Linked DNA regions of Homo sapiens. Each later gene encodes a partner of the first gene's protein in a complex. Each region holds a gene or a part of one and is shown in the gene's direction. Other genes may lie near its edges.

Region 1 (7,721 bases):
TCTAAGGAGATGCATGCAGAGCAGTGATGTCTGCAACTAAACCAAGAGGAAGACAGGGAAACTCTCCAGTGATGGGAAACACAATTTTCTGCAAAATGCCAATTCCGAGACAGTTCATTTTAGTCTTCAAGTATAAATACCACAGCTAAAATATTCGTTTGTGGCTTTGATACTTGCCATTTCCATGTGTCTAATCTCCATTCACTTTTGACACTTTTTTTTTCCCTTAATAAATCCTTCACTGGAACTTTTCACACTTTTCATCCTATCTCCTATATATTAGATTCTACAGATGTACAATATAATCTAATCATATCATACCTTTATTAAAATATCTTAGTACATACCTGTCAGAACTTTTTTTTTTTTTTTGAGACAAAGTCTCACTCTGTCACCCAGGCTGAAGTGCAGTGGTGCTTGGCTTACTGAAAGCCTGGACCTCCCTAGGCTCAGGTGATCCTCCCACCTCAGCCTCCCATAGCTGTGTGCCACCATGACTGGCTAATTTTTTTTTTTTTTTCTTGAGACGGTGTCATGCTCCGTCACCCAGGCTGGAGTGCAGTGGCGCAATTTCGGCTCACTGCAACCTCCACCTCCCGGGTTCAAGTGATTCTCCTGTGCCTGGCTAATTTTTTTATTTTTTGTAGAGATAGGGTTTCACCTTGTTGGCCAGGCTGGCCTTGAACTCGTAACCTCAAGTGATTTGTCTGTCTCAGCTCTCCACAGTGCTGGATTACAGGCATGAGCCACTGTGACTGGTCCCCAACATCAACTTTTTATTCATGTCCTTCTTCAATCTAATATTTAACTATTTTTAGCTTTCTTGCCATGATTTCTTATGGTTAATTAACCTTGTCATGAATAAATGTTGATGCTTTTCCGTATATTGCTTCTCAGTTTGAGTTCCCCAACACAGAATTCTGTTCGCTCTTCAAAATCCAGCTCAAATTAATGAAACCAGATATAGTTATTGTATGTCTTACTATACACTTTGTCGAAATCCTACATTTTTCATGAAGCTTTCCTTGATTAACTCGGCCAAACATGAACCATAATCTCCAGGGCTTAACACAGTGTCTGGCACATACATTTGTTGGGGCTCAGAAAATGATACCCCAAAGTATGGTGCTTTGGCATGCTGAGTACTTTTGTCAGAGGTGTTCGAACCACAGCGACTCGCATCGTGAATACGGGATGGGTAAAATAAGGCTGAAACCTACTGGGCTGCATTCCCAGGAGGTTAGGCATTCTAAGTTAGGATAAGATAGCAGGTCAGCACAAGATACAGGTCACAAACTCCTTGCTGGTAAAAGGATGTGGTAAAGAAGCTGACCAAAACACACAAAAACCAAGATGCGATGTAAGTGACCTCTGGTCATCGTAGCTACTCATTATGTGCTAATTATAATACATTAGCATGCTAAGAGACAACTCCCACCAGTGCCTTGACAGTTTACAAATGCCATGCCAATGTCGGGAAGTTACCCTATCGTCTAAAAAATGGAGAAACCCTCATTTCCAGGAACTGCCCACCCTTTTCCTGGAAAACTCATGAATAATCTACCCCTTGTTTAGCGTATAATCAGGAGATGACCATAAAAGTGGCCAGCCAGAAGCCCTCAGTGCTGCTCTGTCTATGGAGTAGCCATTCTTTTATTCCTTTACTTTCTTAATAAACTTGCTTTCACTTTACTGTATGGACTTACCCCAAATTCTTTCTTGTGTGAGGTCCAAGAACCCTCTCCTGGGGTCGGGATCGGGGCCCCTTTCTGGTAACACTTTGTGTTTTCTTTTGTTTTCTTTTCTTTTTTCTTTTTTTTTTGGGGGGGGGATAAGGTCTTACTCTATTGCCCAAACTGGAGTGCAATGGCTCTTGATCACTCACAGTTCACTGCAGCCTCAATCTCCTGGCTCAAGCTGTCCTCCCACCTCAGCCTCCCAAGTAGCTGGGACTACAGGTGCACACCACCACACCTGGCTAGTTAACAACAAAAAAAAGTGTTTTGTAGCGATGGAGTTTCATCCCATTGCTCAGGCTGGTCTCGAACTCCTGGGCTCAAGTGATCCCCCTGCTTCAGTTTCCCAAAGTGCTGGGATTACAAGAGTGAGCCACTGCACCTGGCCCCCATGCTGAGTACTTTGAACTAAAGGAGATTGGAAAGCCTGAGAAGCAAAGTCTCTCACTGAACCTCTGTCCTGCTGTCTCCTATCCCTGTTACTCACCCTAGGCTAGTCATATAAACCAGAACTCCTTTCCCCACAAAGTAAGCCATGAAACGAAGAAAGGTCACTCTCTGCCTTCTCATTTGAAGACTCTCATTCCAGAGAAGTCTGCTCTATACCTGGGTGTGGAAGGAATGCTACACAGAGAGGTCAAGACGAATCTGGACAGGCCTTGCTGGGTTTCCACACTCAGTCTATTACTATTAGTTCATTCTCTTTTTGTACAATCACATTTCTACATGGATGTCCACTCTGTTGAATCTAGGCATACAAATGGACAGCTTTCTCTGGGTCTTTACTTCTGAAGGCTCCTGTGTCACATAAGACTTCCATTAAATTAATTTGTTACACTTTTCTCTTGTTAACCTGTCTTTTGTTGTAGAAGTGTTGGCCATGACCCTTATGATGGGTGAGGAAAGGTATGGAGTGCAGTGGCATGATCATGGCTCACTGCAGCCTCAACCTCCAGGGCTCAAGTGAACCTCCCACTTCAGCCTCCTGAGTAGCTGGGACTACAGGTGTGCCGTAGAGACAGGGTCTCGCTATTTTACCCAGGCTGGTCTCAAACTCCTGGGCTCAAGTGAGCCTCCTACTTTGGCCTCCCAAAGTGCTGGGATTACAGGTATAAGCCACCCTGCCGGCCTTCTGATAGTTTTTAATTTACAGTTTACAGTGTATTTCACTTTAATACATTCCTTATCTAAGATTGCCTTTGAGGTTTAAAATGTTGGAAGTTAATACCTTACATTGTATGTGCCTCTGAAGGTATCTGTAAATGATGTCCCATGTTATTATTTTTGCATTCCCTTAGAGGCAACATTTTATATAACAGTTGTCCAAAGGCCTAAGGCAGAGGATGTAATACTGGGTACTCACGGTATATGACGACTTTCCCAAATGGGAAATGAGCATGGAGGCTCTGTTTTCAGGCAGTCAGTTCTATCCTCATTTTCCTTGAGTAGAAGCATCCCTAAAATTGGCCTGAAAATGTGTCCTTGGGTCAGGGTGTAATGTGGGCTCTTTTCCAGTCTCCTTTCTTCCAATGACCTCTTCCCTACTTTACAAAAGAAAGGCATAATTCTTCCTCATGCTAAATCTTAGTAAGGTGCAATACCCGGTTATGCAAAAACCTCCAGGACACCAAAGAAAGGCACAATTGACTGGTGAATAAGAATGGGGTAACACATCCTTTCACAAGTCAGGTGGTTTTCAGTTGCTTGCTTTCAACAAGTTGAAAGAGAACCTAATCAGAGTTGTCAGCTGACAGATCATTAAAAGTATTTTTTCTTTGTTAGATCTTTATGCGATTTTTGGGCATATAATGCGAAAGGCATTCAAAGAATTGTGTGGCATTACTATAACAAAACTCCATTCATTCTCATCTGCTTTTTTTATGCGAACAAGTTTTCTCAACACTTATATCCATGGAATTGAAAACTTGGAATAGAACTGATGCTGAACTATTTCTCAAAAAAATCCATCCACTGAAGGTCATAATGTATATTAGAAAAAAGTCCACCCAAGTTCATTTCTGCAAGATGCATTGCCAATAAAATTTTGCTTTTGTGTTTAGTACTTACAAACATTTGAAATAGATTTGTTTTGATCGGTTGAAATAAGAGCTTTATGATCACAGAAAATATAAAAAACAACCCAGATACTTCAATTTATGTTCACATTTTTATTACAAGTAAGACGATCAAAATAGTTCAAATATAAAATATATTACTAGGATAAAATTCTAGAGGAGATATGCAACGTCAATATGAGTTCCAGAAAACAATATTTGGAAATTGTATTTTCCAAACTGTATTTTAAAAAAATGGATATTAGTGGGTGTTAAATCCCTATGGTATTTAGAATCCATTGGCTATACAGTATTTAAACAATGCGACAGATGAAATATTTATAAGCCGGAAAAATGTAGCTGTCATTCTAAACTGTATAAGAACATACACAGCTTTACGAAATTGTTTTAGAAGGCTCATGAAGTAAAAAGTTTGAGGACCCTGAACCAAGATGTTTGCTCTGGGTTCAGGATGTCAACATCTCCAGGGGTATTCAAACATAGGGTGTATTAAAACCTGTCGCCCTGTGTTGCGCATAAAAATTTAGTACCTTACACCGTAGTGTTTTAATTTTTGCCCATTTTAAACCGCTCTCTTCGTAGACTGTAGGCTCGTTCTATTCCTGGCTCAGCTCCTGTACAGAGGGGACACTCCTCAAACACCCCCGGAATGAATGAGTTTATCGTGAGAACTCGGAAGGCTGCTAAAATCCCCGGCCAGCGTTGGAGTTTTCAGTCCGCGTGTCCCTGGGCTTCGAAGCCCGGCAGGGCGTGGGAAGGCCCCGAGGAAACGCTGAGCACTTGCAGGCGCCGGGGCGGGGGCGGGGGCGGGCACTGGGCAGCGGGGCGGGCGCCGGGCGGGGGCGGGGGCGCAGAACCCGCAGCCGGGGGAGGTGCTGCCTCGTGCCGCCGCGCAGGCGCGCAGCAGTCTCCGTGTGAGTGCGCGTAGTCGCGCGCCTGTCCCCGCGCGGGCTCCGTAGCGCGTGTGCAGGCTGACGCAGCTCGCGGGCCCTCCTCCTGCTCTGCAGCGGCGTCGGCGGAGTTTTGGGCGTTTGGGAGGGGGGCGAGGGAGAGAGAGTCGAGAGAGGGAGGCGGCGGTGGGGAGGAGGAGGAGGAGGAGGAGCAGGCGCCGCCATGGCCGCCGCTATCACCGACATGGCCGACCTGGAGGAGCTCTCCCGCCTGAGCCCTCTGCCCCCCGGCAGCCCGGGTTCGGCGGCGCGGGGCCGGGCTGAGCCCCCCGAGGAGGAGGAGGAAGAGGAGGAGGAGGAAGAGGAGGCGGAGGCCGAGGCGGTGGCGGCGCTGCTGCTGAACGGCGGCAGCGGTGGGGGCGGCGGAGGCGGCGGCGGAGGAGTGGGGGGCGGCGAGGCAGAGACGATGTCGGAGCCGAGCCCCGAGAGCGCCAGCCAGGCCGGGGAGGACGAAGACGAGGAGGAGGACGACGAGGAGGAGGAAGATGAGAGCAGCAGCAGCGGCGGGGGTGAGGAGGAGAGTAGCGCCGAGAGCCTGGTGGGCAGCAGCGGCGGGAGCAGCAGCGACGAGACCCGCTCGTTGAGCCCCGGCGCCGCCAGCAGCAGCAGCGGGGATGGGGACGGCAAGGAGGGCCTGGAGGAGCCCAAGGGACCGCGGGGCAGCCAGGGCGGCGGCGGGGGCGGCAGCAGTAGCAGCAGCGTAGTCTCCAGCGGCGGCGACGAGGGCTACGGGACTGGGGGAGGCGGAAGCAGCGCGACCTCCGGGGGCCGGCGGGGCAGCTTGGAGATGTCGTCGGATGGGGAACCCCTGAGCCGCATGGACTCGGAGGACAGGTCAGTGCTCTGAAGCGTTTCCCCTTCCCTTCCTCCTCTTGAACTCCCGGGCCCCTCAGAGGGGGACCAAGGCGACGTTTTGCCGCGATCCCCCTGCTCCCCGAATCCTCGGCCCCTCCCCCAGACTCTCAACTCGGAAATCTCTCGCCGTCGCCGCCGCGCCCCTCTCGCAGCGCATCGCGGCTTCCAACTCTCAAACCGTTCCCCCCCAACTCTCCTTTCCCCGCCCTCTTTCCCCTCGGCGCTTCGCTCCTCACGGACCTCAGGACGGCTCTAACTCGGAAACAGTCCCCAAACGGGCCCAGATCCTCTGGCGGAGCAGAAGAGGGCCTTGATGTACACACGTCGGTACTCAAGGTTAGCTTCTTCCAACCGTGTTCGGGAACACTTGTCAGAACTACAATTGACAAGTGTTTCCAATATGGCTGGTCTCGCCTGGATTTAACAGAACTTCCTTGTCCATGGGAGAGACCCCAGCTATCACTTTTCTCTACTTAAACAAAAAAAGGACTGTTCTTTTATATTAAATCATTGCCTCCCAAATCCCTCATTTGTAGTCAGTCATGTGGTCTCCAACGTGATTTTAACAATCTTTTCTATTTGTTTTGGGAGCATATCTGGGAAAAAGTTTTAAACACGTATAAATGGTTGTGGAAAAGAATAGTGAATTGATGGCCTTTTAAGATAACTTTGCGGAATCAGAGAGTTGGAATCGTAACAAAATACAGTCTTGAAGGTACAACGTAGTTTGCGGCTTTATAGTAATGTTTCAACATGAGAGTCATGATTTTAAATGATAATATTTAAAGTCATGCATTGGAGAGGTCTCGGAAGGAATGAGTATTATTTTTCTTACTAAAGCTTGTTAGAAGTAACTGGAGAGTGACAAAAATGCGCATTTTTTCAGAACATTTAAAAAGTGTGATAGTGTATGTTTCAATTGTCTTATCATTACTTTTGATCTGTTTGGGTTAGTTGGTTTTTAATGTACTTTTAAAAAAACGAGAATCACATGCATATTATGCCACTTCTAAAGTGTATTAGCGTTTATTTTGACCATCTATGTTTTGACAATCACATTTTTTTTAAACATGCTCTCCAGAAAAGTATAGCAATGGAAATTTTAGTGGTCGATAGTGATTTTCATTTAAGAGTTTAATATTCTAAAGTTCTAGGAATTCTGATTAATTGATTAAAAACGAACACCTTAGTATTTAATGCTACAAGTAATACAGAGTCCTGGATATTTTGAAAATCTGGCATTAGATTCTGTTTGACATTAACGTCTAGTTAAGAAAATATCTTCGGGTAAAGTAGACTGTATAAACCTTAGAAAAATTGTGTTGAACTGTGTAGGCATGGGTAGGAAGGAGAATGTCTTCAAGAAAATTAAAAATTGATGTAAACTGCACAATGAAGCATGTGCTATTTTTACCATTTTATGCTCCTCTGATACCATTACATATCTGAAAGTTGACATTAGTTTATAAAATCAGCGTTTTTCATTTACTCAGTATACACGTATTATGCTTGCCTACCACTGTACAAATTAGATGTCTTCCATTTCATTCCCACAACTATGGTGCAAGATAGGTATTATTTTGACTTCTGTTTAACAGATGAAGAAGCAAGTTGAGTATCTTACTCAGGACAGTAAATACAGCATGGAAATGGTGGGCTGGATATGAGCAAAGGTTCTCAAGTCCCCTATTATTTCCACTGAAGAGTTAAAATAATTCGCCTTAAATAAGTTGAGGCCGGGCGCGGTGGCTCAGGCCTGTTAACCCCAGGACTTTGGGAGGCCGAGGTGGGCGGATCACCTGAGTTGGGAGTTTGAGATCAGCCTGGCCAACATAGTGAAACCTTATCTACATTAAAAATACAAAAATTACCCGAGAGTGGTGGCGCGCGCCTGTGTTCCCAGCTACTCGGGAGGCTGAGGCAGGAGAATCGCTTGAACCCGGGAGGCAGAGGTTGCAGTGAGCTGAGATGGTGCCACTGCACTCCAGCCTGGGCGACAGAGCGAGACTCCGTCTCAAAAAAAAACCAAGTGATATGTGTCAGAGTTTTGTTTTTAGTTAGTGTCCATTTACTACATCACTTCAGGAGACGAATTATTGGTTAAG
Region 2 (7,331 bases), on another chromosome or scaffold:
CCCTCAGCTCCTTCAAGTTTTTCTTCATATGTCACCTTCAAAATGAGGGCTTCCTTAACCAAGTGGCTTTTAAAAAATTATTTTATTCCCAGGCTGGAGTGCTGTGGTCCCATCTCACTGCAACCTCCGCCTCCCAGCCTCAAGCGATCCTCCCACCTCAGCCTCCAGAGTAGCTGGGACTATAGGCACCATGACCGGCTAAGTTTGGTATTTTTGGAAGAGATGAGGTTTCGCTATGTTGCTCAGGCTGATCTAGAACTTGTGAACTCAAGTAATCCTCCCATCTCGGTCCCCAAAGTGCTGGGATTACAGGCGTGAACCACCACATCCAGCCCCAAGCTGTTTTAAAATTACAGCAATTGCACCCAATACTCCCCTCTTCCCATGCCTTATTTTTATCACCACCTCATGTTCGGTATAATCATCATTCACAGAGTAAGCACTCCATAAATGAGTGCTGTATAATATGTGGGAAGTAAATCCCATTTTTGGGGTTGAAAGGGAGGTTCTGAGAAGTGAAGGGATGGAAAGGGAAGTTTGCTGGCTGACAGCCTTAACTTTGCACTCCATCTTCTCCAGTTCCCCCAGGACAACCCTGAGAATCAGCTATGTGCCGGGCACGCTAGGCCCTGGGGTTACAACTTTGGGGCTTAACTGTTTTTCGTTTCATCTTTTAACTTTAATACCAAATCTTTGTTGTTCACACAGAACAATCTTTACAGAAATGAAAAAGCTTGGTGACCCTCAACCTCCATATCCACCTTTGTGTTTAGCCTGGCTTTCTGCTTCATCTAGGCCCCTTGAGTAACTGGCATTCACACACACACTTGCTTATATGTTTACTATTCATTACACACATTAAAAATTTTTTTTCCCATTGAAATAGTCATAGAGGTCTGTTAAATAGGCCTGTATATTTTCTTGCTTTCCTGGGTTAGACATCTTCAGACAGTTTTTCTTTTGGTAGCAAAAGCAAAATACTTCTTCCCCCTCCTAACTTTGCTGTATTTGTCATATACGGAAAGGAGTCGCGAGACATCATGAACCCCACATACAATGAAGTCCTTCTGGAATATTTTCAAATTATCCCCTTTTTCTGCCATTACTGTGGCCTAAACTACCTTGCTTAAATGGACAATGTCATCATTGAATCAAGAAAATACTGTGATCCACTGGCATCCCTTTTCACCTTAGCCTTCATATCATATTTATATTAAATGTCTGTTATATATATTTAGTATCATCCCACCTAGCTCTTTAATGGTTAGAGTCCAACCTACACACTCTTCCCAGTGGGAATGGCTGCTCTATAAAGTTCTTTGTACGTGTTTTTTTTTTTTCCTAACATTCACTTGGTGCCAATAATTATATTTTGTCCAATCACTTTTTTTTTTTTTTAAAGAGATAGGGTCTCACTCTGTTGCTCAGGCTGGAGCACAGTGATGTGATCATAGCTCACGGTAACCTTGGGATCCTGAGCTCAAGCAGACCCCTCACCTCAGCCTCAGGGGCAGGTGGGACCATAGGTACTTCTGTGCCACCACACTCAGTTATTTTTTAAATTTCTTGTAGAGATAGGGTCTTGCTATGTTGCCCAGGCTGGTCTCGGAGCTTCCCACCTCGACTTCTGAAAGTACTGGGGTTACAGGTGTGAACCACTAAGTCTGGCCTGGAATATCTTGATCCATCCATTCCTTGATTCTAAACGTCTAGCAATTTACATGACATTTCACACCATGTTGCAGAGTTATATACTGCTTTGATTTGCTTTATGGTAGTCTCTAATTTCGTTGATCTTCCTCTTAAAAATGCCTTGTTTTAATATTTAGTATTACAGGACTGATAAGTTCAGTAATTTGATAAGCAACTTAGGGATAAGTAGTTAATTTCTGAGGTTTAAATTGCTGGTTTTAAAAAATTGTAAATTGGTGGCCTAGACAGATGCATTTTATCTTGGAGAATGAATGTATTCGTGACTGGAAGTAATGGCAGCTATAATTCGTTACGTTATTTTACAGTCACATCTCAGCTGCATAACCTATTTACTTTTTGCAGTGTTATCACTGATTCACAAGACAATTTTGCTTTTATCTGGGCACATGATTGCTTGTTTCTCCTTATCTTTTAGCTTCCCTTTATATATACTTTCCAACATTGGAGTGATTCAGAATATATGTGAGGAATGGGATGGTGATTTAGGAAAGGCGGGAAAATTATGGGCTAAATCATCTGATGAAAAATTCTGGCCCAGCGCAGTGGCTCACGCCTGTAATCCCAGCACTTTGGGAGGCCGAGACGGGCGGATCACAAAGTCAGGAGATCGAGACCATCCTGGCTAACACGGTGAAACCCCGTCTCTACTAAAAACACAAAAAATTAGTCGGGTGTGGTGGCAGGCACCTGTGGTCCCCAGCTACTCGGGAGGCTGAGGCAGGAGAATGGTGTGAACCCGGGAGGCGGGGCTTGCAGTGAGCTGAGATGGTGCCACTGCACTCCAGCCTGGGCGACAGTGTGAGACTCCGTTTCTTAAAAAAAAAAAAAAAAAAAAAATTCTGGCTAGTTATTAAATTCATTAAAAATATTTCTTCAGATTTTTACCCCAACAGTTCATAGGTGACCTTTTTTCAGTTTCCAGTATGAACTCTCAATATGGAATCTCAGTTTACATGACAATGGTATTTTACCCCATAGATACATCCTAGTAAAAATAAATTCGGAATACTCTTAACTGCATTGCCACATGAAGCAATAGGAGAGACTGTATCCTAAGCAGAATCCCTCTAATTCCTCTGGGTTGAGGTAGCTTGACCCCCCATAACCAAGATCAATTTTTTTTTTTTTTTTGAGATGGAGTCTCGCTCTGTCGCCCAGGCTGGAGTGCAGTGGCGTGATCTCGGCTCACTGCAAGCTCCGCCTCCCGGGTTCACGCCATTCTCCTGCCTCAGCCTCCCGAGTAGCTGGGACTACAGGCGCCCGCCACCACGCCCGGCTAATTTTTTGTATTTTTAGTAGAGACGGGGTTTCACCGTTATTAGCCAGGATGGTCTCGATCTCCTGACCTTATGATCCGCCCGCCTCGGCCTCCCAAAGTGCTGGGATTACAGGCGTGAGCCACCGCGCCTTGCAAATATCCTCACACTTTGCAGAGGCGGCAAGTGAACAGTGCTCATCTTGATAAAGGATTTTTAACACTGACACGTGCTTAGAACTACGAACAGTGGAAGGGTCTGAAATGGCAGCAATGTCGCCCTTTCACAGGTTTCTAGGGCGATAAGCACTGCAAGCTCGGCCAGCCAAAGTCCAGCGGTGGGGGAAAAAACGGCCAAGGCAGCAGCAGACATAATCAAACAGGGCCCGGGTCGGCGGCGGTGGCTCACGCCTGTAATCCCAGCACTTTGGGAGGCCGAGGCGGGCGGATCACCAGAAGTCGGGAGTTCGAGACCAGCCTGACCAAGACCCGTCTCTACTAAAAATAGAAAATTAGCCGGGCGTGGTGGCGCATGCCTGTAATCCAGCTACTCGGGAGGCTGAGGCATGAGAATCGCTTGAACCCGGAAGGCGGAGGTTGCGGTGAGTCGAGATCGCGCCATTGCACTCCAGCCTGGACAACCAGAGCGAAACTCCGTCTCAGGAGAAAAAAAAAAAAGTAGTAACGGGTCCGGCGGCAGCGCGCGGGCCGGGCGAGCGTCTCCCGGCAAACGCGGCGCCACAGCTGAGCCGACCTCCGGGGCCCGCGCCCTCCCCTCCCCGGGCACCACTAGGAGCGGCCAGCCCGGGCCTCGGCTCCGCGCGCGGGGAAACGAGCGCGGCGGTTAAAACCGTTACCACCCCCGAGTTTTGAACTGGTTCAAACTTGGCTTCCAGCACCCGCCCCGCCCCTCCCCCGCCCGGGAACTCTGCGGCGCCGGTTCCCGCCAAGAGCCGCCGGCGCTTCGTCCCGCCCTTCGGCCGGTTCCCGCCACCTATCCTCCCCGCCTCCCGTCCGCGGCGGGCTCCGGGCCCCCGCGATGTCTCCCGGTCCCCGCGTGCCTGCACACCGCCTTCCTGAGAGGCGCCGTGTGTTCAGCGAAAGAACAAAGAGACGGCGGCGGCGCTTCCACACGGCCAGTGGCGTCCCTTACAGCGAACCCCGCCGCCGCCCGCGCGCGCACGCGCTGCCAGTGCCCGCCCGCCCACGAGCCCTGAGCGCACTCTGCGTGGGGCTGGCTCGGCGCCTCCGAGCCCGGCGGGCCCTGTGATTGGACGGGCGCCCGCCTCGCGTCCCGCCAATCGGGGCGGCGCTTGATTGGGCTGGGGGGGCCAAATAAAAGCGATGGCGATTGGGCTGCCGCGTTTGGCGCTCGGTCCGGTCGCGTCCGACACCCGGTGGGACTCAGAAGGCAGTGGAGCCCCGGCGGCGGCGGCGGCGGCGCGCGGGGGCGACGCGCGGGAACAACGCGAGTCGGCGCGCGGGACGAAGGTAACGCGCCGCTGCGGGCGGCCCGGCCGGCGGGGCTCCGGGAGTGCGAACCGGGCGGCGGCGGCGGCGCCAGGACCTCCCCGCCACTGCTGTGCCGGTCCCGGGTATCGCCGAGCGGGGCTCACCGGGGCGCCGCGTTTGTAGGCGTGCGGGGGGTGGAGGGTGAGGGGAGAGCCCCCCTCCCCGGAAGGAGCTGTGAGCTTCGGGCTGGCCCGCGGGACCCTGCGAGTGAGGCAGCGCACACCCCTGGAGCTGCGGGGCGGGGGGCGTGTGGGGGGCTCCTTTCCCGGTGCTTGTCCTGGCCGGGGCGCCGGGGCCGGGGTCGGGGCGTTCCGGTGCCCGGTCCAGGGTGGCAGCTCGAGCCTCAAGTCTCCTTTGTGTGGCGCGGCCGCGGCGGGAGCGCCCGGGTGGGACGGGACAGACACAAGTTGGTGGGACCCAGCCGCCGAGTCCGCACTCAGACAAAGGACGGACTGTGTCTCCGGAGGGCTCGGCGCGAGGGGAAGGGGCATGACACCCGGGCCCGCCGGCGGGCGGGAGAGGGGCGTGGGGAGGCGCGGGCCGCTGCCGGGGTGGGCAGGGCTCGGCCCTCGCCTCGCGCACGCCCCCGGTCCCGGGCGCGCCGACCCCGGGCTGGGGCCGCGGCGCTCGCGGGACGACGTTCGCGGCGGGGAACTCGGAGTAGCTTCGCCTCTGACGTTTCCCCACGACGCACCCCGAAATCCCCCTGAGCTCCGGCGGTCGCGGGCTGCCCTCGCCGCCTGGTCTGGCTTTATGCTAAGTTTGAGGGAAGAGTCGAGCTGCTCTGCTCTCTATTGATTGTGTTTCTGGAGGGCGTCCTGTTGAATTCCCACTTCATTGTGTACATCCCCTTCCGTTCCCCCCAAAAATCTGTGCCACAGGGTTACTTTTTGAAAGCGGGAGGAATCGAGAAGCACGATCTTTTGGAAAACTTGGTGAACGCCTAGTGAGTTGCCACTTTCTAAAGAATCGTAATCCTTAAACATTACAAGCTGTTTTGGCCAACTTGTGTGATACATCTGAGAATGGCGACAGGTGCTAACGAAATCAACTGTCATTCAGCCAGATTATTCCCCAAATCCCGACGGGTTGAATGAGGATGAGGTGGTAGAAGTAGGTGATCAAAATAGAATGGCTATGACAAATGTGTGTTTAGATTATACGGTTAGCAGTTTCTTATTAATTGGTCTCGTTTTCTGTGAACAATAGCTTTGGTGATTCAGAAAAGACTGCATGGAGAAATGTTTGTTGCCTAAGAAATTTAACGTGTGCTGTCCACAGTTAAACTTCCTTTATCACACAGGATCTGTAACATTTAAATTCATTTGGAAATAAAAATGTGTCTTTGCTATTTACTTAAAGGCTTGCTTTTTAGGGTTCAAGCAAGTTATTATTAGTTTAATTTTGTGGCGTTTTGATGTCATCATAAAACAGCATTTAATAAACCTTTGAAAAACACGAATGCTGTCACAATTGAATGTAGTTTATACTTTTAGGGGTTTTGGAGTTTATTTTCTATTACTCTTCATAAGCATTAGCAACTAATTCATGTTTAGGAATACTGTACAAGTGTGTAATCCTAACTTGTTTATTTGTAATTTTATTTGCAGGAAAACAAGTATTTAAGATATATTTTAATTTTCTATTCATGGTCTCTAAAGTTAGGAATAGGTAGGATTCTAGTCATAGATATAAAGCGTCTTGTTCTCTCTTTTCGGAGGTGTGTTGGGTGATGTAATATTTAAGGTTTCCCGGAAACAGGAACACTGCATCTTAAATTCTCGTTTTTGTGGAAAGTGAATATATTCCAAGAAAACAAGTTAGAAAAACATAGGCGTTCTTCTGGTTGCACTGTCCTATATGATAAAGATCTAATGTGCATCTGCTAACTTAAGGTTTCATAAAAATGGAGACAAATAAATGCAATATAAATTTATTACATATATTTTGGAGAGTGTTGACACCACTGTACGGGCATTCCAGGTGCTGGTCTAAGTGTTGAGACATTATAACAAAAAAGTAACGTTTATATTAGTTACTATTAATTCTGTATTTAAAAAATCCTATTAATAATCTTGTCCATTATGAGATAAGGTAGTTATGCAGATTTTTGGCAGAAATTCGGATATTTTAGGATACATATGTGTGTGTGTGTGTGTGTGTGTGTGTGCGCGCGCGTGTGTGTGTGTGTATATGTTTTTTTTTTTTTGAGACAGAGCCTTGCTCTGTCGTCCAGGCTGGAGTGCAGTGGCTGGATCTGGGCTCACTACAATCTCTGCCTCCCGGGTTTAAGGAATTCCCCTGCCTCAGCCTCCCGAGTAGCTGGAACTACAGGCACGCACCACGACACCCGGCTAATTTTTGTATTTTTAGCAGAGACAGGGTTTCACCATGTTGGCCAGGCTGGTCTCGAACTCCTGACCTGAAGTGATGTACCCGCCTCCGCCTCCCAAAATGCTGATCCAGACGTGAGCCACCACGCCCAGCCTAGGATAAAAATTTCTAACTTTGCCCTTGAGTGTTCTCTGTATTTGATAATTACTATTCTTTGTACTTGCCATGAGATATTTTGAAAAACATCTCTTTGGGGAATTGGTTTAAAAATTCATATTAAATTATTTTCTGGTACAATTGAGAATGTATTTAGTCAGTTTAAGTAGCAGTGACTTAAAACACACTTGTTGATCTAGTGTAGTTAGAAAAAGTTCTGATACTTTGATACCTAGCTTTGCCTTGCACAAATACATTTAAGTGAATATCTTTATGTTGGCCATTTAAAAATTTTAGGCAAATTTCTCCAAGTCATACTGGAATTTTCCCAGGATACCTTCCTTCTTTTGAGGTAGTGTGC
Region 3 (6,898 bases), on another chromosome or scaffold:
GACAGGGTCTTTCTCTGTCACCCAGGTTGGAGTGTAATGGTGCAATGTCAGCTCACTGCAACCTCAGCCTCCCGCTCAAGCCATCCTCCCACCTAAGCCTCCCAAGTAACTGGGACTACAGGTGCACACTACCATGCCTGGGCCACCACGTCCAGCTAATTTTTTTTTTTTTTTTGGTAGAGATAGGGTTTCACCATGTTACCCAGGCTGGTCTCAAACTCCAGAGCTCAAGTGATCCTTTTGCCTCGGCCTTCCAAAGTGCTGGGATTACAGATGTGAGTCACCACATTCGGCCTCAGAATAAAATTTTAAAGCTCAAAAATTATTGCCAAAATAGGAAGGGCAATGAGAATCCAGGAATGAGTAGGCCAAGCAGCGAGGCTGGATTGGAAATGGGCCTGAATTTGGGGCCTTGAAGAACGTATAACACTACATTGGATTTAGATAATGCAAGAGGAAAACTAGCAGAGTTCCAGAATGGAATGGAAGATGATGGTAGGAGACTAAATGTTGGGCAATAGTCTAAATAGTTGGGCATTATAGTTTTGGTGAAATATTCAACAGTAAGCATTTACTGGACATCTTTCAAATTTGATGAAGTTTTTGGAGCTTTGGAGGGTATGAGAAGTAGACAACATCATCTCTTTAGGGAATTTCCTTTTTACTTGGAGAGAAGAACTAGAAACATTAAAAGTGGAGAATGTAAACAAATAGGATGCAATGCAAAGGGGTGAAATATGCACTTCTTTAAGTATGTATGTGAACCCCTACACCTACTTCAAAACTCCTTAACACCTAGTCATCTCAGCAATGTGTTCTTTTTAGCTTCTTTTCTACATTGCTGATATAGTACTTTTTGGAGGTATCACAATCCATTGTAAACTCTGCCTTTTTTTTTTTTTTTTTTTTACTGAGCTGTGAGCTTCCTGTGTCCTCAGGGATGAGGACAGTGCTGGCATAGAGTCTAATACAATCAATGTACCTAGACATGTTCTCATCCCTGCCCCTCCAATTGAAGAGGTCAAGGCTTTGAGATGTGAAAATCATCATAAGAAAAGCTGCATTTGACTTACAGAAAATGAAAAAGAGGAGGAAGGAGCAAGAAAAGCCTTGGATGGTCTTGCCAAGATGGTAGGGGAAGGAAGTTCATTAGGAGTAGGTTACTTTCACAACAGGAAAATCTTTCAACCACTAAGAAGGCCAACCTTTTTTCTCTTTCAGGGAAAACAACACTAATATTATTCAAATCTTTTGGAAATGAGCAAATTCCTTCCTTTCCCCTCTGCCCTGAGGCCTCAACTTTACACAATAGTTTTTCACACCAGGTGACCTGGAGCTGGTAGCCTGGCAGGGGAGTTCGCAAGCCCAGGACTGAGAAGTCCAGGCCCCAGGGCTAGTTAGGGGAACAGAAAAGAAACTCACCTTTGTTCATTAATATTTGCCTAGGGAATGAGGTATCTGCGTTAAACTTACAGAAAGCTGGTTAAAATCTTAACAACGTGGAGACGTGGAGATTCCCAGTATGCCAGTCCTAATGATCAGAAAGTTTTTAGAAAACACCTTGGGTGGCCCTACTGTAGTCTGCCCCATTGGATCCTTCCCAGGAAATGGCACCAGCGTACAAGTTTTGCAGTATTCAGGGCACAAAAGATCATTTATTTTTCCAATTGTGAAGTGAACATTAGATAAAATTATTTCATTTCAGATTTTTTGAAAAGGTAAAAATAATAAGGAAAATACCCTCTCGAAAAGGCTTTTTATTTCGTTTACTGAAAGCTTCCAATAACGTGCCTAGTTTTAAACTAGGTTACTGTTATTTATCACATAATCATCCCCACAGGTTTGATCACCACTAATTTGCAGATGCGGAAACTGACAAGCTCAGAGAGGCTCTCGGTTGCCTTTTGGGAAGTGGCCAAGGCGCGATTTGAATCCAGGTCTCTTACCTCCAGTTTCTGAGACCTTTCTAGACACCAAGGTTATCTCTTCAAATACTGCTGCAAGTAAACAGCTGTGTGAGTATCTAGACTTTTGAAGTTAGCAGACTCTAGGGAATAGGTAGAATAAAATATATGGGTATGTGTTCGCGGGAGCGCTTCTGCCACGTTTTATTCCGAGGCTAGCCTGAGAGATCATGGAAAACATTGCTTCTCCAAAACCACAGCGAAAAACAAGGAAATTAACAAGGCAGAATCGCGATGCGAGACTTGACAAAGTTGTTAATAAGGCGAAGGCCCAAAGCGCTATGCCAGGGCCTGCTACTTCATTTGTTTCAGCGATTAAACCAGCACGACAGGGGGCTGGAGGCAGGTAAAAAGCAGGCTCTTGCGTGGCCCGGACAGTTGATATTCCTGGCACTCGGTGTTCGAGATGTTTCCTTACAATTGCGTGTCTGTGCGGCTCGGTCTCCATATTCCACTCATTTTTGTCTCAACATTTTGTGGTATTTTATCACAAAATACGCCCGGCAAAGCAAAGATCCCGTTCAGTCTCTTTAAACACGGCTATCTTTTCTCAGGAGGCAGCCGCCGGGGCTTCACTCCTGGGCCACCAGCGACGTCCTCCAAGCGGGTCGAGCGGAGGCGCGTTCGCGACCCAGGGGCAGCGTGCCGAGCCCGGGCGTGGGGGGGCGTGGCCTTTCCACTCGGCGACCCCCGGCCACCGCCCACCCCGCGCGTGGGGGCGTGCGCGACTGCGGGGCGCGGAGAGGGGTGACCTCGGACTACCCTAGGCGCCCGCAGCACGCTCTGTACACAGACGCGAGGCGCTGTCCTGAGGTGACACCGGCTGCACGGCACAAGCAGCAGGCGCCGCCGATCAACTAGTTCGCACCGAGGATTCCTCTTGGTGCGTGGCCCAGTTTTCCTTAGGACGGGCTCCAACCCCTCCCTGACACCGCCCCCCTCACCGCCACGCTCCGAGGCCTTCCCCGGGGAAGCCTCGCGTCCCTCCCCCGCGGCTCCGGGCCGCACGCGCGCGATTCCTCGATTCCACAGGCGGTTCGCGCCGCGGGTGGGGGCGGGGCGCGCGGGGAGGGGGCTGGCGGCCGCCAGGGGAGGGGGGCCGGGGCCCGGGGGGCGGAGGAGGGCCGGCGTGGGGAGTTCCTCGCTCGCGGACCACACGCTCCGCGGGCCAATCCCGAGCCAGCCTCTAGCAGTGTCGCACGCGGGACACGTCCAAGCGTTTGTTGGCACGGCCAGTGAGGGGGAGGGGGCGAGGAGGAGGGAGGGGAGTTGAGTGACAGGCTTTGCGGGGCAGGCTGGGAATTGTAGTTCCCAGCTTCCGTGGCCATAGCCATTTTGTAGTCGGGGGACTACAACTTCCAGAAGATCAAGGGGACCATTCTAAGGTGCCCCGGGAATAGGCGGCTCTCCCCGGGGCCGGGCGTCCTGGGGCACTCCTACCCAGCAGCCCGGCTGCAGGTAGACGCGAAGGCAGTGGCGGGGGCTGGCGTGGGGCGGCCGTGGGGTGAGCGGCAGGCAGGGGAAAGGGGGTGAGGTGGAGCGACGGAGCGTGCCATGCATTGAGCTAGGGAGCCTCTCTCAATTCCACGCCTGGGCTCGGCGTGGGAGCGACGCCCGAGGGCTTGCCTGGGAGGGGTTCGTCGAGGTCGCTCGGGTGTCTGGTTGGCCAGGCTGCGGGGGTGCCCTGGACTGGGCCAGGGGCGGTCGGCACCAGGCTAAGCGGGCGCCTGGCGGCTGAGCGGTGGGAGTTTTCGGCTGGCGCCCGGCGGGGAATTATCCGAGGAGCCCTAACTTGTATAAAAGCAGAGTCCATTTAAAGTTGGGCTGGATAGCCTCTCTCTCATTGGTTAGGGGGCTTGGAAAAAAGAGACTCGGCGAGCCCTCGCTGTGGTGCTGCCGCCGCCGCCGCCGCCGCCGCTGGAGTTGACTCTTCTGCTCGCACTGCTGCTGCAGCACAAACGTGACTTCCAACATTTTTTATTTATCTTTCCCTTTTCTTTTCCAAGATGTAACTACGGATCAGACACTAAGGACCTTCACGTTTCGCTGATGTAGTTTTTGGAGGAAAAAGGGGGGGGAGTGAAGGGCGTCGGTTTTTTTTTGTGTGTGTGTGTATGTGTTTCGGGGGAAATTTTCCATTATGAGTGTTTTACTAAAGTGAATTTTTTTTTGTTTGCTTCGTTCGTCTTTGGCTCTTTTTTTTTCCTTCCCAATTTCGGATTTATTTCAAGGCGAATCTGGCTTTGGGGGAAGAGGAAGAAAAGTCGGATTACAAGATCAACCACCACCAACAACAATAAAAACCACCAGGATATTTTTTTGCAAATTTCTGACGGCTTTAAATTCATGAAGCAATTGTCCCCTTTTGCAATCAGCATTTGGATCTCAGAATGAGCAAGGAAAGACCCAAGAGGAATATCATTCAGAAGAAATACGTAAGTGCTCCTAACAACACATCCTTTGACTTGCAGTTTTAAGCAATGGCTGTGAATGTCAAGTTTATAGATAATTCTGCCTCTGAAGGGTTTTAAACACAGCGTCCGATAAGGCTGTTTCTTTTTTTTCTGAAAGAGGGCTTTTCAAGCAAAGTGGTGTCTGCCTAGTTTGGTTGAAAAAACAGACTGGTGTAGAGATACCTCAAGTGAATAAATTGACCTCGAATGACACAACCATAATCTACTTTTAGATGAAAGGCAAGGGATTTTGGTGGAGCTTGAGGTGGGGGGTGGCTGCGGTAATGTAACTAAACTGCATTCTCAAGCGGATTTGGCCCCGTATTGCACTTTGCATGCAAATGAGCCTGTGTTATTATTATTAATGTTATTTGGAAAAATCGTGTAACGCATGTGTGTTGGAAGCCCTTTAAGTTGCGATCGAGGGTCCGATTATGGCGATCTTCTCTTTGCACTGGCACATCAAATTTAATGTCTGTGGTCGTTTTGGCTTATCTGGTTTGCAACATAAACCAGTTGGGAATCATGTTACAGCGAATGCATTTGTTGGGATTGACTTTAATAATGAGGCTGGTTTTGTTTAAAAAATTCATGGTTTCCAGTTGTAGGGGAAAAGGACACACACTATGGCTAATGTTTTTAAGTGTGTACGTGAATGCATATGTAAGTAACTACAAATAATTTCTCCCTGTTAACTGGGCTTCTGAAATTGGGTGATTATTCCTAGATTTAAATGGCTTGGAATAGTTAAATTTGTTTTGTGCATAGTACAGCTACGTTTTGATTGGCATGGGGAGTGTTTTTGTTTTGTGTGTGGTGGCTTTTTTTTTTTTTTAAGTTTGAGGGGAGGGAGGAAAGGGGGACCGAGGGATTAACCAAATATGCACTCGAGTGATCTGTGATTAGCTGCATGCTTTAAATTAAATAACTCTTTTTTTTTTTCAAAAAAGGCCAAATGAACATACCTTAGGAATAATGCAACGTAAGAGGAAAGTTTATTTAAGTTGGGTAGACAAATTGGTGTTAATATTTTCCCTTTTTGATCATTGTGGTGTGTGTAATGAGAGATGACCTTCGGGGCACTGGTTTTGTAAAAAAATATATTTAATGGAAAAGCTGAATGCCTCTTCAAGAGAGCTGATCCTTATCTAGACACGTCAACTTCAACTATGAAAGAAATGCAAGGTTAAATAATCAAGCCCAACTTAGAAAGCTGTTCCATAAAGAATTTAAGAATTAAAATACATCCGCATTGCAGAGGGCTGGGTAGAATGCAAAGGACTAGTTTAAACTCGGGCTGTAGAAACTGCACTGAGGCAACCTTGTCTTGGAGCGTGGACGCCTTCCCGGGGCACGTCCGTTTCGGATGCAGCCACAAAGCAAATGGGGTAGAACTTGGACGAGAACCGCACCCCGCCTCCCATTCCGGACCTCGTTGAGGTGGAGAGCAGCGTGGGGTGGGTTTTCTTTCTTATTGCGGGCGTTCAGCGGATCGTGTCTCCGAGTCCGGGCGTCCGGCTGCAAGCCCGTGGCTGGCGGCGGCTGCGGGAGGCACGGCACGAGTTAATGCACCGGGAGCAGAGCCGGTGTTCCCGACGTCCTCGAGCCGGCTGCGAAAGGGACGGCCCGCGGGGGTCGCGGCAGGCTGGGCCGGGGCTGGGCGGGCGGGCGCGCGCGCGCGGCCTATAGGGGGCATACTCCGGGCTCTAGGCGGGCGCGCGAGGCGGGCACCGGTCTACCCGGGCCGGCTTGCAGGCGGGCAGGAGGGCGGGTGGGGCGCGGGGGTGGCGCGGCCTGCGGGGCGCGGGGAGGGGAGAGCGCGCGGGGAGGGGGTGGGAGCGGGGGCGGGGGCGTGGGCGTGCCGGGGAGGGGGCGCGCGGCGCACAGCTGCAGCGGGCGCCCCCCACCGCGCACACGGCCGAGCATGGCGGCGGCGGCCCGGCCGGCTTCCCGCGGCCCTGCCTGCGGGCTCCGACGCAGTCTCGAGAGCAACAGGTTAAGCCGGCGAGACGTCAGCGCGCCCCCTCTCCGCCCCCCGGTTCTTCCCCCGCCGCGCGCCGGCGCCCCAGCCCTTCTTCCCTCCCTCCGCCCCCCGCGGCGCTCGGTTCCCCGACGCTCCCGGCCGCACTCTGTTGTCATTGTGACGTCACAAAGGGACGGGCTCGGGTGGAACCTTCCCCTCCTCCTCCGTGACGTCAAAAGTCGGGCGGGAGGCTCCAGGCGCGGCGGGGCGGCGGGGGGAGGAGGGAGCTGGGCGGGGGCGGGGGCTGCCGCAGAGCCGGGCTGCGGCGTGGGAGGAGGAAGAGGAGGAAGATGCGCTCGGCCTCTGCCTTCCGCTCCGGAGCGTCGCGCTTCCCACCAGGTGAGGGCCGGGGAGCCGTAGGTCCCCAAAGGAGTGCCACTGGACCCTGTTCTGATGCCACTTGGGAAGCGGGGAGCGGGGAGGAGGCGCCTCCTTTCTGCAGGAATGTTTTCACTTCC
Region 4 (7,500 bases), on another chromosome or scaffold:
ACTTCTTATCTTAGAAGCCATAAAAAAAAGGGTTGGCCGGGAGTGGTGGCTCATGCCTGTAACCCCAGCACTTTGGGAGGCTCAGGTGGGCGGATCACTTGAGGTCAGGAGTTCAAGACCATCCTGGCCAGCATGGTGAAACCCTGTCTCTACTAAAAAAAAAACACAAAAATTAGCCGGGTGTGGTGGTGGGCACCTGTAATCCCAGCCATACGGAAGGCTGAGGCAAGAGAATCACTTGAACCCAGGAGGCGGAGGTTGCTGTGAGCTGAGATGGTGCCACTGCACTCCAGCCTGGGAGACAGAGCAAGATACTGTCTCAAAAAAAAAAAAAAAAAAAAAAAAAAAAAAAATGCCAGGCGTGGTGGCTTACGCCTGTAATCCCAGCACTTCGGAGGCCGAGGCGGGCGGATCACCTGAGATTGGAAGTTCGAGATTGGAAGTTCGAGACCACCCTGACCAACATGGAGAAACCCCATCTCTACTAAAAATACAAAATTAGCCAGGCACGGTGGTGCATACCTGTAATCCCAGCTACTCTGTCTCAAAAAAAAAAAAAAAAAAAAATTAGCCAGGTGTGGTGGTGCATGTCTGTAGTCCCAGCTACTCAGGAGGCTGAGGCAGAAGAATTACTTGAACCTGGGGGGCAGAGGTTGCAGTGACTGGAGATCATGCCACTGTACTCCAACCTGGATGACAAAGCGAGACTCTGTCTCAAAAAAAAAAAAAAAAGAAAAGAAAGAAAGGGTCAATGCAGGGGGTCCCCAACCCCCTGGCCAGTACCAGTTGGTGGCCTGTTAGGAACCAGGCAGCACAGCAGGACATGAGCTCACAAAGCTTCTTCTATATTTACAACAGCTCCCCATTGCTAACATTACTGCCTGAGCTCCACTTCCTTTCAGATCAGGCACAGCATTAGATTCTCATAGGAGCTTGAACACTATTGTGAACTGCACATTGAGGGATCTAGGCTGTGTGCTCCTTATGAGAATCTAAAGCCTGATGATCTGTCATCCCCAGATGGGACCATCTAGTTACAAGAAAACAAGTTCAGGGCTCCCACTGATTCTATATTACAGTGAGTTGTATAATTATTTCATTATATATTACAACGTAATAATAATAGAAATAAAATGCACAATAAATGTAATGCGCTTGAATCATCCTGAAACCATCCTCCCCTACAACCCCCGTTGGTGGAAAAACTGACTTCCGTGAAACCAGTCCCTAGTGCCAAAAAGGTTGGGGACCGCTGGTTAATGAACTGCATTGCATAAAAACACTTTCTGCCTAGTAAGAAAAACCAACAACCCAAGACAAAAAAAAAATAACCCAAGAGAAAAAAGGGCTAAGAATATTAACATACACACCCCAGAATGGGAAATACAAATAGCTTCCAAAACAGTATAATATGTTCAACTTCACTTACAATAAGAAAAATACAGTAAGTATACTTTACAAATTAGAAAAGATAAAAAAGTATGGTAACAATTAGTAGAAGTGGGAGGAAAGAGGCACATTCACACAATACTAGTGAAAGTATAAATTGGTACAACTCCTATAGAGAGCAATTTGGCAATAACTGTCCAAGTTAAAATATCCTTTTAAAAAATGTAGGAGTCTTAGCAATGGAAACAAAAAAAACTTGGAGAACTTGATTCTACAGATTCACTTGCACATGTACAAAACAGTGGATGTACAAGTGTATTCACTGCTGCACTGTTTCTAATACCACAAGAGTAGAAATAGCCTAAACGTCCATCAACTGAAAATTGGTTAAAGCAAATGCTAGAACATCTAGGTATGTACATGTAAGAAAAAGGTAACGATGACTGCTCTACAGAGGGGGACTAGGTAGTTGAGGATGGGGGCTGCCAGAGTTACTTTTCACTGCCTATGTTACACTTTCTGAATTTCAAATCAATATATATGACCTATTAAAAATAATTTTTTTTTGAGATGGAGTCTGGCTCTGTCGCCCAGGCTGGAGTGCAGTGGTGCAATCTCGGCTCACTGCAACCTCCGCCTCCCAGGTTCAAGCGATTCTCCTGCCTCAGCCGCCCAAGCAGCTGGGATTACAGGCACCCACCACCATGCCTAGCTAATTTTTGTATTTTTAGTAGAGATGGGGTTTCACCATGTTGGCCAGGCCAGGCTGATCTCAAGCTCCTGACCTCAGGTGATCCACCCGCCTCAACCTCCCAAAGTGCTGGGATTACAGGCGTGAGCCACAGCACCAGGCCTTTTTTTTTTTTTTTTTTTTTTTGAGACAGTCTCACTCTGTTGCCCAGGCTGGAGTGCAGTGGTGTGATCTCGGCTCACTGCAGCCTCCACCCTCCTGGGTTCAAGCAATTCTCCTGCCTCAGCCTCCCGAGTAGCTGGGATTACAGGCGCCCACCATCATGCGCAGCTAATTTTTGTATTTTTAGTAGAGACGGGGTTTCACCATGTTGGCCAGGCTGGTCTGGAACTCCTGACCTCAGGTGATCCACCCACGTCAGTCTCGCAAAGTGCTGGGATTATAAGTGTGAGCCACCGCAAACGGCCTATAATATTTTAAAATTGTTTTTAAGTGAGAGAAGGGGATATGCTAGGAGGTATGCCAGCTCCAGAAAGCACATTGCCTAGAATACTATGGTAAATAAGTAGATTTTACAGAGAGGACAATGAGAAATTAATGAAAGATTTTAAGCAGATAAATAAAAGTCAGATTTGTGCTCCCCAAACCACAGCTACCTTTAGGGATGACAGCTTAACGTTTAATATAGAATTTAAGAGACAAAGATAGGTTATGTGATTTGCCTAAAGTCACTAAGCGAATAAATGGCAAAACCAGCTGGGCACTGCAGCGCGGGCTATGATCGCTCCATTGCACTCCAGCCTGGACGACAGAGCGAGACCCCATCTCTAAAAACACACACACACACACACACACACACACACACACATTTTTTTTTTTTTTTGAGACAGAGTTTCGCTCGTTGCCCAGGCTGGAGTGCAATGGGGCGATCTCGGCTCACCGCAACCTCCGCCTCCCGGGTTCAAGCGATTCTCCTGCCTCAGTCTCCCGAGTAGCTGGGATTACAGACATGCTCCACCACGCCCAGCTAATTTTGTATTTTTAGTAGAGACGGGGTTTTTCCATGTTGGTCAGGCTGATCTCGAACTTCCGACCTCAGGTGATCCGCCCGCCTCGGCCTCCCAAAGTGCTGGGATCACAGGCCTCAGCCACCGAGCCCGGCCTAAAATAATCATTTTTAAAAATCACAATCATAAATGGCAAAACCAGGTTTTTTGCTAATATGATCGAGGTGAAACATCAAGTTAGAAATCCCCTAATTAGCTTTCCGAGTCCTCTAACCTCGCACACTCTAATCTCACCGTTGGGAAATACATGGGGGTAACAACCCTGCAAACGCCTGAAAATATGGTTATCTTTAGAATTTACGAAGATAAATGTGATTAGGCACATGTGGAAGAAGTTCAAGAGACTGTAAATGAGGGAGGCCAGGTTTCGCGACTATTAAACCAGGTGGCTTTTTCCTTCAGCATCCCCAGGAGAAGTACGAACGCGACTACAACAGCCGGCACAAATGGGATCATGCCTGAAGTACCCATGGGGCACAGTAGAAAGAGCAGCAGGAAGCCGCGGGTAAGGAGAGGGGATGCCTGTGTGCTTACATGTAAAGAGAGAAGTAAGCCACCTACTCACACTCGTACTTCCTATTGACTGGCGGATACTTGGCCTTGATCGCCTTCTGTTCTTCAGTCAAATTGTAATCTCTAACATCTTCCTCTTCCTGCGCCATGACTGCAGGATTAGACACTCTACTTCCGCCCTTCATCCACCGGACTTCGGCCCGGAGTTACTACTTCCGCTCTAGACTCCGCCCCTTGGCGCACACCCTTAAAGGACCACACTCCTTTCTCGGAGTTGGCTGTTGACCTACTTTAGTCCCTACCCTGCCGCTTGGATCGCATATTTAAAAAGCCAAAACCCCATCTTCTGCGATTCCTTCATTACTAGTTCTTTCCAAAGACTAAGGAAAAACGTTGAAGGGCACCTTGAATGAAACCCGTCTGGGTCTGACTGGCGAGGTTCTTTCCCCCGCTTCACCCCCAAAATTGATAACTAGACCCGAAGGCATTCTAGATTTTTCATCTCAGTACTCTGAAAGGGTCGTAAGCTTAATAGCCTTCAAGAAAATGGCTGCCCTCTTGCCGCGGGAGTGTGCGGACCAAACCTCTCTCACGTGACCCTGACCGGGCGCAGTCCCGTCAACGCCGGCGCGCGCAATCGCTGGAAGTCGGCTCGGGGAGGCGTGGGGGGAGGGGCGGAGCGCGCGCCTCGGTCCCCGCGGAAAGCTACTCCGCGCGTCTGGATTGGTCGCGAACGCGGCTTCCCCGCCCATCCCGCCATTAGGAGCGCTCCCATTGGCTGATGTTGGCGCGAAGGTGCGCGAGTCAGCCCTCGCGCTGGGGGCGCAGGAAACAATAGAGGCCGCGCGCACAGAGCGAGCTCTTGCAGCCTCCCCGCCCCTCCCGCAACGCTCGACCCCAGGATTCCCCCGGCTCGCCTGCCCGCCATGGCCGACAAGGAAGGTGAGGGTGCCGGGGCCGACCCAGGAGGGCAGTGGGTGCCTGGGCTGAGCCGCGGCCTCGACATGGCCTAACAGTGAGGGCAGGCCCGAGTTTGCCGAGTGCAGTCCCCGGTACTGAAGGCGTGAAGAGGGAACTCCCCGCGGGGCGTGCTAACGGCTCGCCAGTTCCCTGGGACCGATTTCGGTCGCAGCTGGCGAAGCCAGCGGTGGGGCCCCCGGCCAGTGTTTGTTTCTCTTCCTGCCTCCGATATCGGTTTCTCGGCCTCTGTCCCGAGCGTGGGGACACCGCTTCCTACCCACAAGGCTCGGAGCTCGGGCCTCCTCGTCGGGCTTGTGAGTTTCGGCGCGCACGAGCGTGCTCCGAAGGCCTGGCTGGCCCCTTGGCCTGGAACGGGTAACGGAGTGTTTGGCGGGGATGGCCCGAGGAGTTTCGGCGCCGCGAAAGTGGAGAGTGTGGATGCCTCTGCCGTGGGGATTTAGACAAATCACCTCCATTTCATGGTTAGGCTGTAGGAGTCATGCAGGTGGCTTTGCAGAGGATTACTCGGTTTCCGTTTGTTTGCTAACTTAAATTTGTTTTTAAAAATTTTAGCAGCCTTCGACGACGCAGTGGAAGAACGAGTGATCAACGAGGAATACAAAATATGGAAAAAGAACACCCCTTTTCTTTATGATTTGGTGATGACCCATGCTCTGGAGTGGCCCAGCCTAACTGCCCAGTGGCTTCCAGATGTAACCAGGTGACATGACTCTCCCGAACGTTATTTTGATGTATTTTCAGTGTAGATTTCTCATATTGATTTTCTTTTTTCCGCTCTTCAGTCACCCGGAGAAGGCATGTGATCAAAACCTCTTGGTGACATTTTTTCTAGGCCACAAAGTAAGGCAAAATAACAAAATGATTTTGTAACTTACCTGACAAGAGAAAACATATTGGCGTTTTTTTCTCAATACTGAATTAAATAGCTGTAGCTGATGATAATACCTGTAATAATAGTGGCTGTACCAAATAATAGTACAAAACTTGTCAACTTTCAAAAAGTATTATGGCCAGGAGCAGTGGCTCACACTTGGAATCCGAGCACTTTGGGAGGCCCAGGCAGGAGACTTACTTGAGGCCAGGAGTTGGAGACCAGCCCTGGGAATACCCTCGTCTCTACTGCCCCCCACACAAAAAAAGAAAAAAGTATTACAATGAGTCTAGTCCTTACAACAAAAATTTTTTGTTTTTCTTTTTGAGACGGTGTCTCACTCTGTTGTCCAGGCTGGAGTGCAGTGGCGCGAGCTCGACTCACTGCAACCTCTGCCTCCCAGATTCGAGCGATTCTCCTGCCTAAGCCCTCCCAAGTAGCTGGGATTACAGGCACCTGCCACCACGCCTGGCTAAATTTTTTTGTATTTTTAGTAGAGACGGGGTTTTACCATGTGGGACAGGCTGGTCTCCAACCCCCTGACCTCTGGTGATCCGCCCGCCTCTGCCTCCCAAAGTGCCGGGATTACAGGCGTGAGCCACTGCACCTGGCCTCAACAAAACTTAATTTGAATTCTCGTAGTATGTCATGGTACCTGCCTTCAAGGAGCACATTGTCTAGTTGAAGTGGCAGATATAAACTAATAATTATAGTTATATATGGTGACAGCAGTTGTAGAGAGATAATTAGGGTACCTAGAAAACACCTGAAGGTGGAATGGCTTTCTTATAAGGGGTTTGGGCATAGTGAGGGCTAAAAGATTAATCCTATGTTTCTTACGTGTAGGTAGCTTATCTCTAGTAGAGGGGATAAAATAGCTTGCATTTATTGGGGCTGTATTTGGTGCTACATATCGGGGATCCAAATTAGTTATAATTAGCATAAAAGTGGTACAGATAAAATTATCAGAGGAAGGAAAATTTGCCTCAATTTGCCTCATTTCTTAGGAAGAAATGACAATGCAAAAAACAAAGAGGAGGGTAAATTTAGATGATATTAACATAGTTTTAACAAGACCATTGTGCCATTTGGAATAATGGATTTTCTGGTACAAAAGTAAGTTTTCTGAATTACATTCAAAAGCGATTGTATGCTAAGTAAATTCCTTCAAAACTTGGATCTTTAAAAGTTAAGATAATTGCAAAATGTTATTAGACTATGATGTAGCTCAACAAATGATAGAAATTTGGCAGAAATTATACTAGTAACTTAAGAATGAGGCTGCTACCTTTACAGTGGCATAAGGAAAAATAGGGAAATGTGTCCTAGGGATGTTACACAAAACCATAGTAAAAACCTAGAAATTGGGAGTTAGAAGCTGCTTTGTGTGTTTTTTGTTTTCTGGTTTTTTTTTTTTTTTTTTTTTTGTTTTTGTTTTTTTTTTTGAGACGGAGTCTCCTCTCTTGCCCAGGCTGGAGTGCAGTCACGTGATCTCCGCTGACTGCAAGCTCCGCCTCCCGGGTTCACGCCATTTTCCTGCCTCAGCTTCCCAAGTAGCTGGGACTACAGGTGCCGGCCACTACCCCTGGCTAATTTTTTGTATTTTTAGTAGAGCCGGGGTTTCACCGTGTTAGCCAGGATGGTCTCAATCTCCTGACCTCATGATCCACCCGCCTCGGCCTTCCAAAGTGCTGGGATTACAGGCGTGAGCCACCGCGCCCGGCCTAGAAGCTTCTTTATCATGACCAGGAGTTCCCACATGCAATTGATCATCAGAATTGCTTGGGGAATTCAGGATAATTGGAATCATTTCTGTCAAGAGTTTTCAGTGGTAATTCAAACCATTTAGGAACTTATGGGCTGGTCATGGTGGCTCACACGTGTAATCCCAGCACTTTGGGAGGCTGAGGCAGGCAGATTGCTTGAGGCCAGGAGTTCCAGACCAGCCTGGGCAACATGGTGAAAAGCCCGTCTCTACTAAAATTACA

What was found.
Region 2: the proteins of AEBP2 (region 1) and EZH2 are in contact, whole or in part, in a cryo-EM structure (PDB 8VMI), measured with the Homo sapiens proteins. Residues at the interface, in NP_001107648.1 of Homo sapiens: Lys382, Leu383, Lys384, Asn385, Arg387, Arg388, Ser390, Leu391, Pro392, His395, Asp399, Ala400, Gln401, Asp404, Ala405, Arg407, His408, Ile411, Cys412, Leu415; in NP_001190176.1 of Homo sapiens: Ser76, Leu77, Arg78, Gly79, Thr80, Thr100, Asn102, Ala103, Val104, Ala105, Ser619, Asp620, Val621, Ala622, Ile739, Glu742, Met743, Glu744, Ile745, Pro746.
Region 3: the proteins of AEBP2 (region 1) and JARID2 are in contact, whole or in part, in a cryo-EM structure (PDB 8VNZ), measured with the Homo sapiens proteins. Residues at the interface, in NP_001107648.1 of Homo sapiens: Arg407, Ala410, Ile411, Asn414, Leu415, Glu420, Ser421; in NP_004964.2 of Homo sapiens: Ser148, Lys151, Pro152, Lys153, Thr154, Glu155, Asp156, Leu158, Thr159.
Region 4: the proteins of AEBP2 (region 1) and RBBP4 are in contact, whole or in part, in a cryo-EM structure (PDB 8VMI), measured with the Homo sapiens proteins. Residues at the interface, in NP_001107648.1 of Homo sapiens: Asn378, Lys379, Phe397, Phe398, Asp399, Thr402, Ala405, Ile406, Arg409, His476, Ser478, Pro490, Asn491, Ile492, Tyr493, Arg494, Thr495, Met496, Pro497, Arg500, Lys502, Arg503; in NP_005601.1 of Homo sapiens: Ala6 (codon at 4,602), Phe8 (codon at 5,199), Asp9 (codon at 5,202), Asp10 (codon at 5,205), Val12 (codon at 5,211), Glu13 (codon at 5,214), Glu14 (codon at 5,217), Arg15 (codon at 5,220), Val16 (codon at 5,223), Ile17 (codon at 5,226), Asn18 (codon at 5,229), Leu45 (codon at 5,310), His71, Gly106, Gly107, Phe108, Gly109, Glu126, Asn128, Arg129, Glu179, Tyr181, Glu231, Asn277, Lys317, Asp318, Phe321, Thr338, Asp339, Arg340.

The regions. Positions count from the first base shown.
Region 1 is NC_000012.12:19,434,776-19,442,496, forward strand, and holds the start of AEBP2 (zinc finger protein AEBP2), read left to right. Parts: upstream 1-4,716; 5' UTR 4,717-4,924; coding exon 4,925-5,595; intron 5,596-5,823; exon of another isoform or gene 5,824-5,929; coding exon of another isoform or gene 5,930-5,952; intron 5,953-7,721. UniProt on the Homo sapiens protein: Acts as an accessory subunit for the core Polycomb repressive complex 2 (PRC2), which mediates histone H3K27 (H3K27me3) trimethylation on chromatin leading to transcriptional repression of the affected target gene.
Region 2 is NC_000007.14:148,881,292-148,888,622, reverse strand, and holds the start of EZH2 (histone-lysine N-methyltransferase EZH2), read left to right. Parts: upstream 1-4,331; 5' UTR 4,332-4,459; exon of another isoform or gene 4,460-4,687; intron 4,688-5,137; exon of another isoform or gene 5,138-5,426; intron 5,427-7,331. UniProt on the Homo sapiens protein: Polycomb group (PcG) protein. Catalytic subunit of the PRC2/EED-EZH2 complex, which methylates 'Lys-9' (H3K9me) and 'Lys-27' (H3K27me) of histone H3, leading to transcriptional repression of the affected target gene.
Region 3 is NC_000006.12:15,242,186-15,249,083, forward strand, and holds the start of JARID2 (protein Jumonji), read left to right. Parts: upstream 1-3,883; 5' UTR 3,884-4,354; coding exon 4,355-4,399; intron 4,400-5,629; exon of another isoform or gene 5,630-5,959; intron 5,960-6,324; exon of another isoform or gene 6,325-6,511; intron 6,512-6,669; exon of another isoform or gene 6,670-6,779; intron 6,780-6,898.
Region 4 is NC_000001.11:32,646,721-32,654,220, forward strand, and holds the start of RBBP4 (histone-binding protein RBBP4), read left to right. Parts: upstream 1-4,487; 5' UTR 4,488-4,586; coding exon 4,587-4,602; intron 4,603-4,635; exon of another isoform or gene 4,636-4,712; intron 4,713-5,193; coding exon 5,194-5,341; intron 5,342-7,500. Other genes in the region: ZBTB8OS (protein archease), read right to left, coding at 3,713-3,845. UniProt on the Homo sapiens protein: Core histone-binding subunit that may target chromatin assembly factors, chromatin remodeling factors and histone deacetylases to their histone substrates in a manner that is regulated by nucleosomal DNA.